Linked DNA regions of Homo sapiens. Changing the gene in region 2 together with the main gene of any one other region gives a genetic interaction. Each region holds a gene or a part of one and is shown on either strand. Other genes may lie near its edges.

Region 1 (3,128 bases), on a different chromosome or scaffold from region 2:
AAAAAAAAAAAGAAAAGAAAAACCAAAAGGTTAAAATTGTCAACTTTACATTTTTACCACAATAAAAAAAATGTTTAAGTGTTCGTTTGAGACAAGAATATTAAACAGGTAAATACTGCCATTTACTGTAGAAAAACTGCCATTTTACTGTAGAAACAATAAGATTGCATCTTTCTAAAAAGTTTAAAATTAGCATGTCTGTAAACCACCAATGTGCCTTATTTTTGTTAAAAGTTTTTAAGGTAATTTTGCATGTCAGTGCCTTAATAAACAACTATTCGAATATACTTTGTTCTTGACTTAAAGGTGCACTGCAAGATCTTTTTCTCATAAACACTGTAGTATAGATTTCCAGTAATCTACAGAAAGTGTTAGATTCCACAATACCTTCTCAGACAAATCCTACCTAACATTTGGTGGCTCTCCTGTCAAATAATTGTCTTAATTTATTTCTCCTAGTGACAGTCCTTTGAGTTAAAAAAGCTGAATATGATAATTTTTTTCAATAAGTAAATTATTAAAAGTATAAACAGTCTTCATTTATACTACTATGCAGTTCATGGAATAACCATTTTCCTTAGAGTTCAATTTTTTGTGTGTCTTTTTAAGGTAGTAAAAAAATGGCTAGGATTTGTAATAGAGGGCTTAATCCATAAGGGAAAACATGTTTTATTTCAAATATATGAATTATTTTTTGTTGAATATGAATCTTAAAATACTTCATTTGCCCTGTCTTAAAAGACTTAATTTTTCCTCCCTCTAAATTCTTGAAGGAAGGTTCCTAAGTGTGCCCCTCATCTTTGTTTTGCAGGAAGAAATTCAAAAGAAAAGAACCCGCCGAGCAGTCAAATTCCAGAGGGCCATTACTGGTGCATCTCTTGCTGATATAATGGCCAAGAGGAATCAGAAACCTGAAGTTAGAAAGGCTCAACGAGAACAAGCTATCAGGTGAGGAATGCTTTCATTATGAGCATTTTACCTATTCGGATGGATTTTAGGTTTGGGTCTTCAGTAATTAAAGTTACCATATAGATTAATATATGTTAAGCTGATTTGGTGGTTAATGAAAATTATTGACAAATTCTTTGGATTTAGCCTACAAATAAATGGAGGTAGGGAAGGAAGGAATATGGTCATTGTACTTGTCCAGTACAGTCTAACTCTAATAATAAGTTGTACCACTAAGGAGTAAAGTGCTTTTGCCTTAAGTTACTTTTACCCCACAGGGCTGCTAAGGAAGCAAAAAAGGCTAAGCAAGCATCTAAAAAGACTGCAATGGCTGCTGCTAAGGTAATTATGGGGTTTCTTTACTTTCTTGAACAATACAACAGGAAAATTTTCTTTTTTTGAGACGGAGTCTTGCTCTGTTGCCCAGGATGGGGTGCAGTGGCGTGATCTGATCTCAGCTCACTGCAACCTCTGCCTCCCGGGTTCAAGTGATACTCCTGCCTCAGCCTCCCGAGTAGCTGGGAGTACAGGTGCGCGCCATCACGCCCGGCTGATTTTTTGTTTGTTTGTTTGTTTGTTTAAGTAGAGACAGGGTTTCACCATGTCGGACAGGCTGGTCTTGAACTCTTGACCTCAGGTGATCTGCCCACCTCAGCCTCCCAAAGTGCTGGGGTTACAAGTGTGAGCCACTGAGCCCGGCTGGAAAATTTATTTTCAGTCTAAATTGTGATAAATGAAAGTTTCACAGTTTTAAGGTATTGAATGCAAGGCTCAATTGGAAATGATGTTTGTAACCAATTACTTGGCCAATGGTTCAGGTCTCCAGAGAGGTGGTCCTCTCCATAAGCCAAAGCATGTGTTACTGTTAGGAACTGGGAAAAATAAAGGTTGGCCTTTTTGTTTGTTTGTTTGTTTGTTTTTTTCCCCCTTCAACACAGGGCCTCACTCTGTAGCCCAGCTGGAGTGCAGTGGCACAATCACGGCTTGCTGCAGCCTCAACCTCCTGGGCTCAAGTGATCCTCCTGACTCAGGCCCCTAAGTAGCTGGGACTACAGGCAAGCACTACCAAACCCAGCTAATAGGTATTTTAGTTGAGATGGTTTCGCCATGTTGCCCAGGCTGGCCTCAAACTCCTGAGCTCAAGCGATCCACCTGCTTTAGCACCCCGAAGTGTTGGGATGAGCCCCTGCACCATGCCTGGTTTTGAAAGTTACTATGGTTATCTACATTGATAACATTGAGAAAAGCTGAGTAAACACTGTACTGTTACTGAGATCTTTTCTGTGAGTTTCTGTTAGGATGCATTTCAGGATCCTACACTGCACTTGGTTGTGTCTCATTTCATCCAGTCTGTGAGGGTATCTTAGTCTTTGTCTTTCATTGTAAAGATGGGCTTTAAATATTTAAGGGTAGTCACATTAAAAGATTGGCATTAGGAATGCAGTTAAATTACTAAGAAAGTGATCTAAGCTACATAAACAATCTGGATGTGAGAGATGGGTAATAATAGGGTAACAAAAGTTTTGTGGAGTAATATTGTGTTATCTTTTTACAGGCACCTACAAAGGCAGCACCTAAGCAAAAGATTGTGAAGCCTGTGAAAGTTTCAGCTCCCCGAGTTGGTGGAAAACGCTAAACTGGCAGATTAGATTTTTAAATAAAGATTGGATTATAACTCTAGGTTGTGCTGGATTTTTTTTTTTTCTTGTAACAGGCATGTTGGACTTTACACGGTCATAGGTGACCTAACAAAGAATGTAAGACGTAGGTATTTTATTAAAAAGTCTATTGCTCAGGAATAATGCATCCTATAAAGTTTTAACTTCTTTGTTGGAGAGAGGTTAAGCAAAATAATGTAAGATGGGTAAGGTCAGATGCTATCTTGGCTTGGCTGGGGTGTATAGGGCACATTAGAAAAACTTAATTGCCTTAACTTTTTGGTTACATTGCTGTAAGTATTAGGATGTTGCTGGTGCAGTGGCTCACGCCTGTAATCCCAGCATTTGTAAGACCAAAGCCAGGTGATCACTTGAGCTCAGGAGTTCAAGACCAGCCTGAGTGACATGGCGAAACCCCATCTCTACAAAAACATTCAAAAGTGAGCCAGGCATGGTGGAGAGTGTATATAGTCCCAGCTGGGAAGCTGGGAGTGTGGAAGGTGGAAGGATCGCTTGAGCCAG
Region 2 (3,500 bases):
AAGTATGTTCAAAATTAAAGGCAAATATGGTTAAATACCCACAGTGAATTGTTTCCTTAAACTATAAAGGAATCAGGTACTATTGAGTTTTGGATGCAAGAGGAAATGAAAAAGCTGCCCCTTTTTGGAATGGGAAGTTCTTCAGTCACTGTTAAAACTATTTGGACTGAGGCCGGGTGCCGTGGCTCAAGCCTGTAATCCCAACATTTTGGGAGGCCAAGGTGGGCAGATCACCTGAAGTCAGGAGTTCAAGACCAGCCTGGCCAACATGGTGAAACCCCCGTCTCTAATAAAGATACAAAAAATAGCCAGATGTGGTGGCACATGCCTGTAATCTCAGCTACTTGGGAGGCTGAGGCAGGAGAACTGTTTGAACCCAGGAGGCTAAGGCTGCAGTGAGCCGAGACTCGCGCCGCTGCACTCCAGCCCGGGCAACAGCAAGACTCCATCTCAAAAAAAAAAAAAAATTGTACTTGGACTGAATTCATGAAAGCTACCTCACATAAACAACTTACAGACATTATTCCTTCCTCTAGTAATTCATAATTAAGTAACAGTTTAATTACTTGAAACACAATAGTGACTCAGCATAAATGACTCAATTTCCCTCCAGCTAGTTTGAGGAAACTACAACTAAAACAGTCTGCTCATAGGTGTCTACTTACCATATCAAGTACTTTGTCCATTTGCAGGCAGATGTTAAATACAGCAGTTGGCTCGTGTGGATACAGTACTGCAGAGAAAGATCCACTCTGTGAAGATTTGAGCAGCATGGTCAGTGAATGCAGAGAATGAGGCATGATAGGACCTGTAATCTCCAAACTAAATTGGTCTCTGTATCCAGAAAGAGCTTGTGTCTTCACATTCACACTCCGTGCCTTCATGAAAATGTAAAGAAAAGGAAAATTAAGATCATCTCTCAACCTTTTGCCTAGCCAAAAATATGTTCAATATATTTCCATTTGGGGTTTCCTCTCTTTTAACAATTATGGAATAAAACTATTTCCCAAGACATCTAAACAATGTTATGTGAGTACAAATACTTAGTAAATTTTCAGCAACCTTTCCATATTAAGAGATTTTCAGGTGAAGTATATTCCAGAGAATACCATTTTTTCATATAGTATTTTATCTGATTTAGTAATACACTGTCAATGCAGACTATTGGAAAAACAAAAATTTAAAATCCATTCAATTTTATTGCTAAGATTTAGCATGTATTTTGTATTTACATATATAATTTATTATGATTATAATCCCAGCACTTTGGGAGGCCAAGGTGGGCAGATCACTTGAGGTCAGGAGTTCAAGACCAGCCTGGCCAACATGGTGAAACCTCGTCTCTATTAAAAATACAAAAAAATTAGCCAGGCATGGTGGTGTGAGCCTATAGTCCCAGCTACTTGGGAAGCTAAGGCAGAAGAATCACCTGAGCCCCAGAGGCAGAGGTTGAAGAATCGCTTGAGCCCGTTAGGCAGAGTTTGCAGTGAGCCAAAATTGAGCCACTGCTCTCCAGCCTGGGTGACAGAGCAAGACTCCGTCTCTAAATAGATAGATGAATGAATGAATGAATGAATGAATGAATGCAGGGCGGCCAGGTGCAGTGGCTCATGCCTGTAATCCCAGCACTTTGGGAGGCCGAGGGCAGATCATGAGGTCAGGAGTTCGAGACCACCCTGACCAACATGGTGAAAACCCGTCTCTACAAAAAATACAAAAAAAAAAAAAAATTAGCCAGGCGTGGTGGCACACGCCTGGGTGAGAGTGAGATTCCACCTCAAAAAAAAAAAAAAAAAAAAAAAAAAAAAAAAAAAAAAAAAGCAGGGCATGGCAGTCCTGTGGTCCGATACTCGAGAGGCTGAGGCAGGAATTTCACTTGAGCCCACATGGTTGAGGCTGCAGTGAGCTGTGCCACTGCACTACAGCAAGACCCTGTCTCCCCAACCAAAAAAAGAAAATAAATGTTCGTATAATTTAAAAAGAGGCCAGGAGTTCAAGACCAGCCTGGCCAATATGGTGAAACTCCGTCTATACTAAAAATACAAAAATTAGCTGGGCGTGGTGGTGCCCACCTGTAACCCCAGCTACTCGAGAGGCTGAGGCAGAAGAATCGCTTGAACCCCAGAGTTGGAGGCTGCAGTGAGCCGAGATCGCACCACTGCACTGCAGCCGGTGACAGAGTGGGACTCCCTCTTAAAACAAACAAACAAAAACAAACAAGAAAAAAAAAAACAAAAAAAATAGCTAGGCTTGGTGGTGTGTGCTTGTAATCCCAGCTACTCAAGAGGCTGAGGCATGGCGCGAGAATCACTTGAACCCGGGAGGCAGGGGTTGCAGTGAGTTGAGATCACGCCACTGCACTCCATTCAGCCTGGATAGCAGCGCAAGACTCCATCTCGAAAAGAAAATAAAAAGGATTTCATATAATTTATATATTTCCACATAATTTCTTTGATATAACTGTCTTATATAATTTTTGTTTCTTTTTTTAATGGGAGGAAAGCAAAATGAAAATATGTACCAAGTAAAAATGCTAGGAGGTTTTTTTTTAAATCAAGAATTTATCCTATCAAAGTAAAGTACTTCTTAAAAGCTAGGTTATGCAGACTTTTATTACCTTAAGCATTTGCATTGTGGCACCTCGGAAAGCAACAGGGGACAAGAGGGTTGGAGGAAGTCCTGCCTGTGGACCTGAGGTAGCAACTAAACTCTTAGAGTTAATCAAAAAATTGAGCAATGTAAAGGTGTTGATTCCTTTTACCAACACAACAGATTCAGGTCTGTGATCCATTTGTACTTCATGTTTCTCTTTACGCCTGAAGATGACAATCAAGGAAATTGCAAAAGCAAATCTCACCTAATGTGGAAAGCAGTTATCTTGATTCTGAATCACCTGAGACTCCTTTTCTCCATAATGAAATGGAAATCCTCTTGCTACCTCTCTTTACCGAATCATAAGGCATATGTTTCAATCAAAATGTTAACAATCTGAATTTGCTACAAACTGACACCTAAACCTAATTTCTTCTCTAGTCAAAACACACCTATTCTCCCACAATCATAATTGAACGTTTTGATTAAAAAAGGTTTAATAGTTCACCATTTGTTGATACTTAGGGGCTTATTTAGTATTACAATGGAGAATTAGTTTTAATATGACCTGAAGATAATTTAAGATTATAATCATATAAAACTGCCAATGTTAAACTTCTCACTAACGTCATTCAATGAAAATTAATTCTAGTTAACAACAACTGAAAGGATACAGCTTGATAGAAAGTATGTCTGGCTTTTTAATTTTATCTTGCACACCCATCTCTTCCAGCCAGGAAAAACTTTCCTCTTCATCCTCATCACTGATGGCTTGCTCCCTAGGAAATTGCTACAGTTAGAGTCCCTATTTCACAAGCTGTTCCTGTGCAAATCTATTTCATGAGTCCATAAGTCAGTGGATGATATAAAGTTATTTTAATCACATACTCCCCATATCCCAAGCTTGT
Region 3 (3,500 bases), on a different chromosome or scaffold from region 2:
TAATCACATTATATAGAATTACATGTTCAAAGTTATATATGTTTTTTGGAAATCACATTCTAATTGGTTGGTTGGTTGGTGTATTTATTTATTTATTTTTGAGGCAGAGTCTCGCTCTGTGGCCCAGGCTGGAGTGCAGTGACATGAACATAGCTCACTCTAGGCCCAACCTCCTGGGCTCAAGCGATCCTCCCACCTCAGTCTCCTGAGTTGTTGGGATGTTGGGACTGCAGGTGTGCCCCACCACGCCCAGCTAATTTTTAATTTTTTTTGTAGAGACCGGGTGTTGCCATGTTGCCCAGACTGGTCTCCAAACTCCTGGGCTCAAGCGGTCCTTCCACCTTAGCCTCCCAAAGGGCTGGTATTACGGGTGTGAGCCACTGCGTCCGGCCTGGAGGACTCCTGTTTGAAGTTGTGTCAGAAAAAGAGGAAGAGTCTTCTGTTAGAAACAGAAAGCCCTTCTCTTGGAGATAAGCCTTGTAAAAAGCTACAGGCCAGGGAGAATTTCAGGGTCAGATTCAGGAGTTCCTTAAATGAGTTTGGTTTTCCTCCTGTCTTTCACATACATAGGGGATGAAATAATACCCAGGTCATCAAAGTCTGTGAAACCAACTGCAACAGGACCTCTGATTCTTCCCACTCAGAGACCCACAAGTGCCACTCTGTTTTTGGACAACGGTCAACAAGCTTCACCGCCAAGTGCCTGATTTGTCAAATGAGAGCTTTGTCGTTTCTTCAGATGCTGACCAGTATCTGAATTCAGTATCTCTGAATTACAGGAGAGGAGAAAATAGATGAAATACTGCTGTCAGTACCACGGTTGCTGGCTCTTGTTTAGCTTCTGAGTCAGCTGGGGCACCCCTGCCATCTGCTCTCAGTGTGGGGCTGGGTGTCCCTGCACCGTGGAACAAGGGCAGGTCCTGTCTTCCCGGAAGGCCCAGCACGGGTGAAGATTTGGGGGCAGATTTATACCAACATACACTGGTCTATACATTGGATATGTGCAGGTTCCCATTCGTTTCCTGGGGAGCCATGTGTCCCTGAGGCCAGAGAGTCTCCTCACCCAGCTCAGACTGAATGCTTTTGTTTTTGTTTCAGGGCATTTGCACGCCAAAGGCAAAGAAGAAAAAATGTCCAAATCATTAAAGAACTACATTACTATTAAGGTAACGTGCTTTTTGTATTGTATCTCTGAGGTGCCGATAGCTTGTGGAACCCATCTTAAAGGCTTCTGTGTCATTTGAGAACCACGGAATCCCATTCCCAGTGCCCTCTGGCCCCTTTCTTATGACGAGACCTGCCTCACCTCCCTCCCACTTTAAGTGGCTCTCCGCCTAATCGCGCCCTCAGCTGTGCGCCTCCCGCAGGTTTCCGCAGTCCCTTTCTTGGTGGAGCTTCCCTTTCTCTTTCCGTGTTTCAAGGCCGGCGCCCTCTTCCTTGCCTTTTCCTTTTATAATTGTTGTCTCCCTCTTGGTGCATCTGCTGACTTCCTTCCCGCCCTCACCCACCACCTCTTACTGGTGTGGCTTTGGGATTTGTTTAGGTTTTGCTGTTTGCCCTTAATAGGCTCAGAGCTGGCTGGATCCTTAACCAACCTGAAAAATGGCATCATGCTATGCTGCTGACACATGGAATGTGAATTTTCGTGTGAATGGAAAACAGGCACACCCACGGAGGGCTCTGGCTGACATAGTTTGAACTCCTCCTTTGTCTTCTGGCCTGTCTTTAAAGCCAGATTTAATTTAATTGCAAAATAAATGGAGAAGAATAGTATCCAGATCTCACCGCCTAAATAGCAAACCAGTGAAAGCTGTACCCATCAGATTTAGGATACACCAACAGGGACTGCTCCTCACAAAATAATTTGTATATAGTTTCCTTAAGTAGAATTTTTCCGTTTTATCCTAGGCAAAATTTCAAACCGATAGAAAAGTTGAAAGAAACATCACTATGGCTCCACCCAGATTCAGTAGTTGTGATGATTTTGCTGTATTTGCTGTGTAGGATCTTTTTCGCCTACCCAGCTTAGATTCTCCCACCGGGGAGCCTCAATTAAATTGGTAAATTAGACTCTGGCCAAAGACAGATTAGCAAGAGAAAAACAAAGAGAAATGTGTTAGAGCGTGCACGGCACACGTGGAGGTGGAGCACAGGGTTGCATGACACAGAGGAAGGTTGGAGCCCGGGGCCACGGGGTTGCATGACGCAGAGGGGGTCCAAACCCAGCCACGGGGTTGCATGGTATGCAGTGGGGTCGGAGCCTGGCCATGGGGTTGCATGACGCAGAAGGGGGTCCGAAGCCGGCCATGGGGTTGCATGACGCAGAGGGGGGTCGGAGCCCGGCCACGGGGTTGCATGACGCAGAGAGAGGTCCGAACCCGGCCGTGGGGTTGCATGACGCAGAGGGGGTCCGAACCCGACCATGGGGTTGCATGGTGCAGAGTGGGTCGGAGCCCGGCCACTGCAGGGACCTTGCTTTATTGAGCTTCACTTGACCGCACTTCGCAGATGCTGTGTCTTTACAGATTGAAGGTTTGTGGCAGCCCTGCACCAAGCAAATCTGTTGGCACAATTTTGCCAACAGCATGTTCTCACTTCCTTTCTGTGTGTCATGTTTGGGTAATTCTTGCAATATTTCAAAGTTTCTCATTATTAAATCTGTTATGGTGATCTGTGGTCAGTGATCTCTGATGTTACTGTTGTAATTGTTTTCGGGCTCCATGAACCACATCCATGGAAGACAGAACTTAGTATGTGTTGTGCATGTTCTGACTGCTCCACCAACTGTCCATTCCTTTAAATCTGCCCCTCCTTGGACTCCCCTATTCCCTGAGACACAACATTATTGAAATTAGGCCAGTTACTAGCCCTACAGTGGCCTCTAAGTGTTCAAGTGAAAGGAAGAGTCACACATCTCTCACTTTCCATCAAAAGCTAGAAATGCTTAAGCTTAATGAGGAGGGTATGTCAAAAGCTGAGACAGGCTGAAAGCTAAGCCTCTTGCACCAAATATTTAGCTAAGTTGTGAATGCAAAGGAAAAGTTCTTGAAGGAAATCAAAAGTGCTATTCCAGCGAACACACGAATGATTAGCAAGCAAAACAACCTTATTGCTGATAATGGAGAAAGTTTGAGTGGTCTGGATAGAGAAGATCAAACCAGCCACAACATTCCTGTAAGCCACAGCCTAATCTGGAACAAGGCCCTAACTTTCTTCAGTTCTATGAAGGCTGAGAGAGATGAGAAAGCTGCAAAGAAAAGTTGGAAGCTAGCAGGGGTTGGTTTGTGAGGTTGAAGGAAAGAAGACCTAGCTAAAATAAGTGATGAAGGTGGCCACACTAAACAGCAGATCTTTCGAATGTAGATGAAATTGCCTTCTATTGGAAGAAGATGCTGTCTAGGACTTTTGTAGCTAGAAAGAAGTCAATGGCTGGCTTCAGAGCTTCAAAGGACAGGCTGACTATTGTTAGGGGCTAATGTAGCTGGTGACTTTAAGTTGAA
Region 4 (3,500 bases), on a different chromosome or scaffold from region 2:
GAAGGAGTGGGCGTGTTCCCAGGGGCTGTGGTGGGAGAAGTCACGACCATCTCGTGTGGGTCCTCCAGGAGAAACCCAGCGCCACTCGGGTGGCTGGGGCGCCGTCAGCCGGGACTAGCGAGGCTGGAGTCAGACCCTGGGGGACGGAGTCTCCACCAGCACCGGCAGGGATGGCGTTCCATCCGTCCACACATTATCCTTCCTGAGAAATTTCTATTACTTGTATATTAAAAACATGCTCACTTTTGAAAGATTATAAAATACAAAACACAAGGAAAAAAAGATCTGGAATCCCACTGCCCAGGGGGAACCTCCACATTTTTAGTGTTTTCTGTCTACATTTTCCTGTTGGATAGTGGAAACAGACACCACTCTTCTGCCGGCATAGCAGACAGATCTGTTCATCTTCTACAAATATGGAAATAAATGAACAAAACAGCTGACCACATACTTCTACAGCCAGCTCTTTCTGGGCCCCCACTGCAGCCCCACGTTTCTTCCCGCCTGCCTCCTACACACCTCCCCATCTGTGACCCTCTGTGACACACGTGCACCTCGGAGGCCCGGCTCCTTCTCCAATCAGGACAGGCTGCCCAGGCCTAAGCCTGCCTTCCCCCTCTCTACCAGGCTCACTCCTTGGTTTAGTCCCTCATGGGGGTAGCTGCCTGGGACAAGGACACAGGAAGTGAATTTCCGGGATATAACATGTTTGCACATATCTGTGTCATACACACCCAACTGACGGGTCCCCAAAGGTGCACGTCTGTGAGTCTGTCCTGGTCTGGCCAGTTTCCCCAGATGGGATGAACACAGCCAAGGGGCAGCCAGAGTTCGGAAGAAGGGGCTGGAGGGCCAGTCTGTAGGCTGCAAACTCCCTCGCCCCACGCCACTTTGGGAACAGGCCTGACCCTGACTCTTGGCTGTGGCTTCGGCTGCTCAACCCAGGGCCTCCTTCCCTGAGCTTCTGACTTGGTGGGGAGACAGGGGAGACAAACTCCTTAGAGGGACTGTGAGGCGGCCTCCAGCCCTGCCATCTGCAGGGCTCTGCAGGACCACCTGGTTTCTCCCCACTGCCCTGTCCCTCTGTGGCCCCAGGTCAGGCACCCCCCACCCACCCAGAGTCTGGCTCACGAGGTTCTCCTGCAGCCCCCATGGCTCTCCGGGTCACCTCCCACTCTTTCCCTTGTAGCTTCGTGTCTTGATCTGCCTTTGCTGTCATTCACGCATCTGTCCTCATGAAGGCTTAACCTACCATGTTTATCAGAAATCTCAGCCTAAATTCATTCGATTTTTACCTAGAGATGAGGTGAGTACATGGGGCATGTTGAAAGCAGTCTGTGTTTAAGGTCATAGGTATCTGTATTGTTCATAGGACTCCTCAATAATAGAAATTGTTTACAAAAATGACTGGCTCTAAAACTGGGTCTCTGTTCACAAAGACTGCTGGTTAAAGAGGAGCACTCGTAGACTCACACAGCCCCAGGTCCAACACTCAGAGTCAGCACAGACTTTTCCTGTGCTAAAACACGCCCTGTGAACTCGAACAGCCTTGACAAGCTCTTCCGTAAGGCTCAGGCCTGAGAGGTCCCGACCTACACCCTCCTACCTGGCATGATCTGGGTCCGTGTAGGGGACAGTTCGGATGCATTCACCCACGTAATTCACCGGGAAGGGCATCAGGAAGTGAGTCTTCATCTGCCAGGGCTTGAAGGTGGGTTCCTGAGGGACACGGTATGGTCAGAGGCGGCTGTGCTGCCATGCACCGCCCACGGCACTGGGACTGGACCCACTCAGGGGTCAGAGGCGGCTGTGCTCCCACGCACTGCCCACGGCACTGGGACTGGAGCCATCTCAGGGGTCCCATCTCCGTGACACTCTGCAGCCAGGTGCTGGGGCGCGAGAGCAAGGCACTGCAGTTCCGTCACTCCACACAATTTCTCACTGTAAAACTGACATGAAGTCCTCCAATCTTGACGTGATGCCTTAACGTATACTGTTCAATTAAAAACATTTCATTCTACGCCGTTTATATCACAGTTACATATTTATATTTCATATCATATTATATCATAGGAATGTGTTAAATCACTCTACTCCACAAGGAACCAAACCAAACAGCATCAGCACCAGGCTGAGTCGCGGAAAGGATCTGTCAGACCGCTCCACTGGCATCGACTCAGCTCGGGAGCTACGTTCAAAGAAGGGTGAGTTGCCCGGGAGGAGACCACCCAGAGCAGTAGCCCTCTTCCTGGGCACAGGGAAGACGCACCCCATACCAGGGCCCTCCTCGGCACAGGAGGACACACCCCCACCAGGGCCTTCACTCAGTACTGTCTGAGAGAGAAAAGGCTCAGGGTGGCAGTGACAAAGGATGCACTGAACTCGCAACTCTAGGGACACGCCAGCCCCACAGACAGGCGGACGGAGGAACATTCGAACATCAGTGGCAGACACAGCCATGCAGGGAAGCACCCACCCGCTGGCAACCCGGATGGGCTGTGGTTCTTACCATGACCAGCTTCCTAATGACCTGGGAGCCATGGGGAACGTGGGCATCTCCACCAGAGCTGCTGGGCACAGGTTTCTGAAAATCAAGTTTCCAAGAGAAAAGAGAAAAATCCAGAACTCACTTGAAATATATAAGAAGTAACAGAGTTTATAAAATTCACACAGCTAATAACAAGTGTTAGGGCAGGTGTAAGTGTTTTAAATAATAAACGCTTAAAAAAAATAAAAATAGGCTGGGCAGAGTGGCTCATGCCTATAATGCCAGCACTTTGGAGGCTGAGGTGGGAGGATTGCTTGGGTCCAGGAGTCTGAGACCAGCCTGGGCAATGTAGTGAGCTCCCATCTCAACAAAAAATTTTTAAAAATTAGCTGGGCATGGTGGTGCACACCTGTAGCCCCAGCTACTTGGGAGGCTGAGATTGGAGGATCACTTGAGCCCAGGAGGTCACGGCTACAGCTAGTTGTAATGGCACCACTGCACTCCAGCCCGAGTGCCAGAGACAGACCCTGTCTCAAAATAACAAAAACTAAAAAAAGAAATAAAGTGAGTAAAAGAAATTAAGAAAATATTAAAATAAATTTTCAGACAGTCAAGGAAAAGGTAGCCTTGTTATATGGTACAAAGAAAATATTTTAACCTTTCTTTCTGCACTTTCTTGTCATTAATCTGTCAAATCAAGAGGACATTTAAGGTGAAAGGGTTGCAGGCAGAGGGGCCTGGAGCAGCAGGAGGCCACCTCCCAAAGGCTCCACTCCCAGGGGCCAACAGAGAGACCACATCCAGAATTGAACCAGGGATACGCAGACACCAACGGAGAAGACATGAGCGTCAACCTCCTCCACGGAGCAGCACGGCTTCTCTACTGACATCCATGAACTAGACTACAACTCTCTAAGTTAATCAAATTTACTAAGTTAGTTATCACCGACATCACTGTTCCATGTCAAATCCATGGATTCATGAGTCAAAGAAACAGCAGTGAACAGCCTTC

The links. Genes that interact genetically often act in the same process or in processes that back each other up.
Region 1: changes in DONSON (region 2) and RPL24 together harm fitness more than expected from each alone (negative genetic interaction), as found in Homo sapiens cells (one large-scale study listed by BioGRID).
Region 3: changes in DONSON (region 2) and CARS2 together harm fitness more than expected from each alone (negative genetic interaction), as found in Homo sapiens cells (one large-scale study listed by BioGRID).
Region 4: changes in DONSON (region 2) and PITRM1 together harm fitness less than expected from each alone (positive genetic interaction), as found in Homo sapiens cells (one large-scale study listed by BioGRID).

Annotation. Positions count from the first base shown.
Region 1 is NC_000003.12:101,680,591-101,683,718, reverse strand, and holds the end of RPL24 (large ribosomal subunit protein eL24), read left to right. Parts: intron 1-811; coding exon 812-948; intron 949-1,226; coding exon 1,227-1,290; intron 1,291-2,503; coding exon 2,504-2,584; 3' UTR 2,585-2,628; downstream 2,629-3,128. UniProt on the Homo sapiens protein: Component of the large ribosomal subunit. The ribosome is a large ribonucleoprotein complex responsible for the synthesis of proteins in the cell.
Region 2 is NC_000021.9:33,578,685-33,582,184, forward strand, and holds part of DONSON (protein downstream neighbor of Son), read right to left. Parts: coding exon 3,481-3,500; intron 3,372-3,480; coding exon 3,267-3,371; intron 2,817-3,266; coding exon 2,618-2,816; intron 879-2,617; coding exon 666-878; intron 1-665. UniProt on the Homo sapiens protein: Replisome component that maintains genome stability by protecting stalled or damaged replication forks.
Region 3 is NC_000013.11:110,661,117-110,664,616, reverse strand, and holds part of CARS2 (probable cysteine--tRNA ligase, mitochondrial), read left to right. Parts: intron 1-570; coding exon of another isoform or gene 571-707; exon of another isoform or gene 708-1,098; coding exon 1,099-1,166; intron 1,167-3,500. UniProt on the Homo sapiens protein: Mitochondrial cysteine-specific aminoacyl-tRNA synthetase that catalyzes the ATP-dependent ligation of cysteine to tRNA(Cys). In addition to its role as an aminoacyl-tRNA synthetase, has also cysteine persulfide synthase activity.
Region 4 is NC_000010.11:3,141,783-3,145,282, forward strand, and holds part of PITRM1 (presequence protease, mitochondrial isoform 2 precursor), read right to left. Parts: exon of another isoform or gene 3,189-3,500; intron 2,585-3,188; coding exon 2,510-2,584; intron 2,205-2,509; exon of another isoform or gene 2,074-2,204; intron 1,994-2,073; exon of another isoform or gene 1,720-1,993; coding exon 1,607-1,719; intron 1,307-1,606; exon of another isoform or gene 1,190-1,306; intron 1-1,189. UniProt on the Homo sapiens protein: Metalloendopeptidase of the mitochondrial matrix that functions in peptide cleavage and degradation rather than in protein processing. Has an ATP-independent activity. Specifically cleaves peptides in the range of 5 to 65 residues.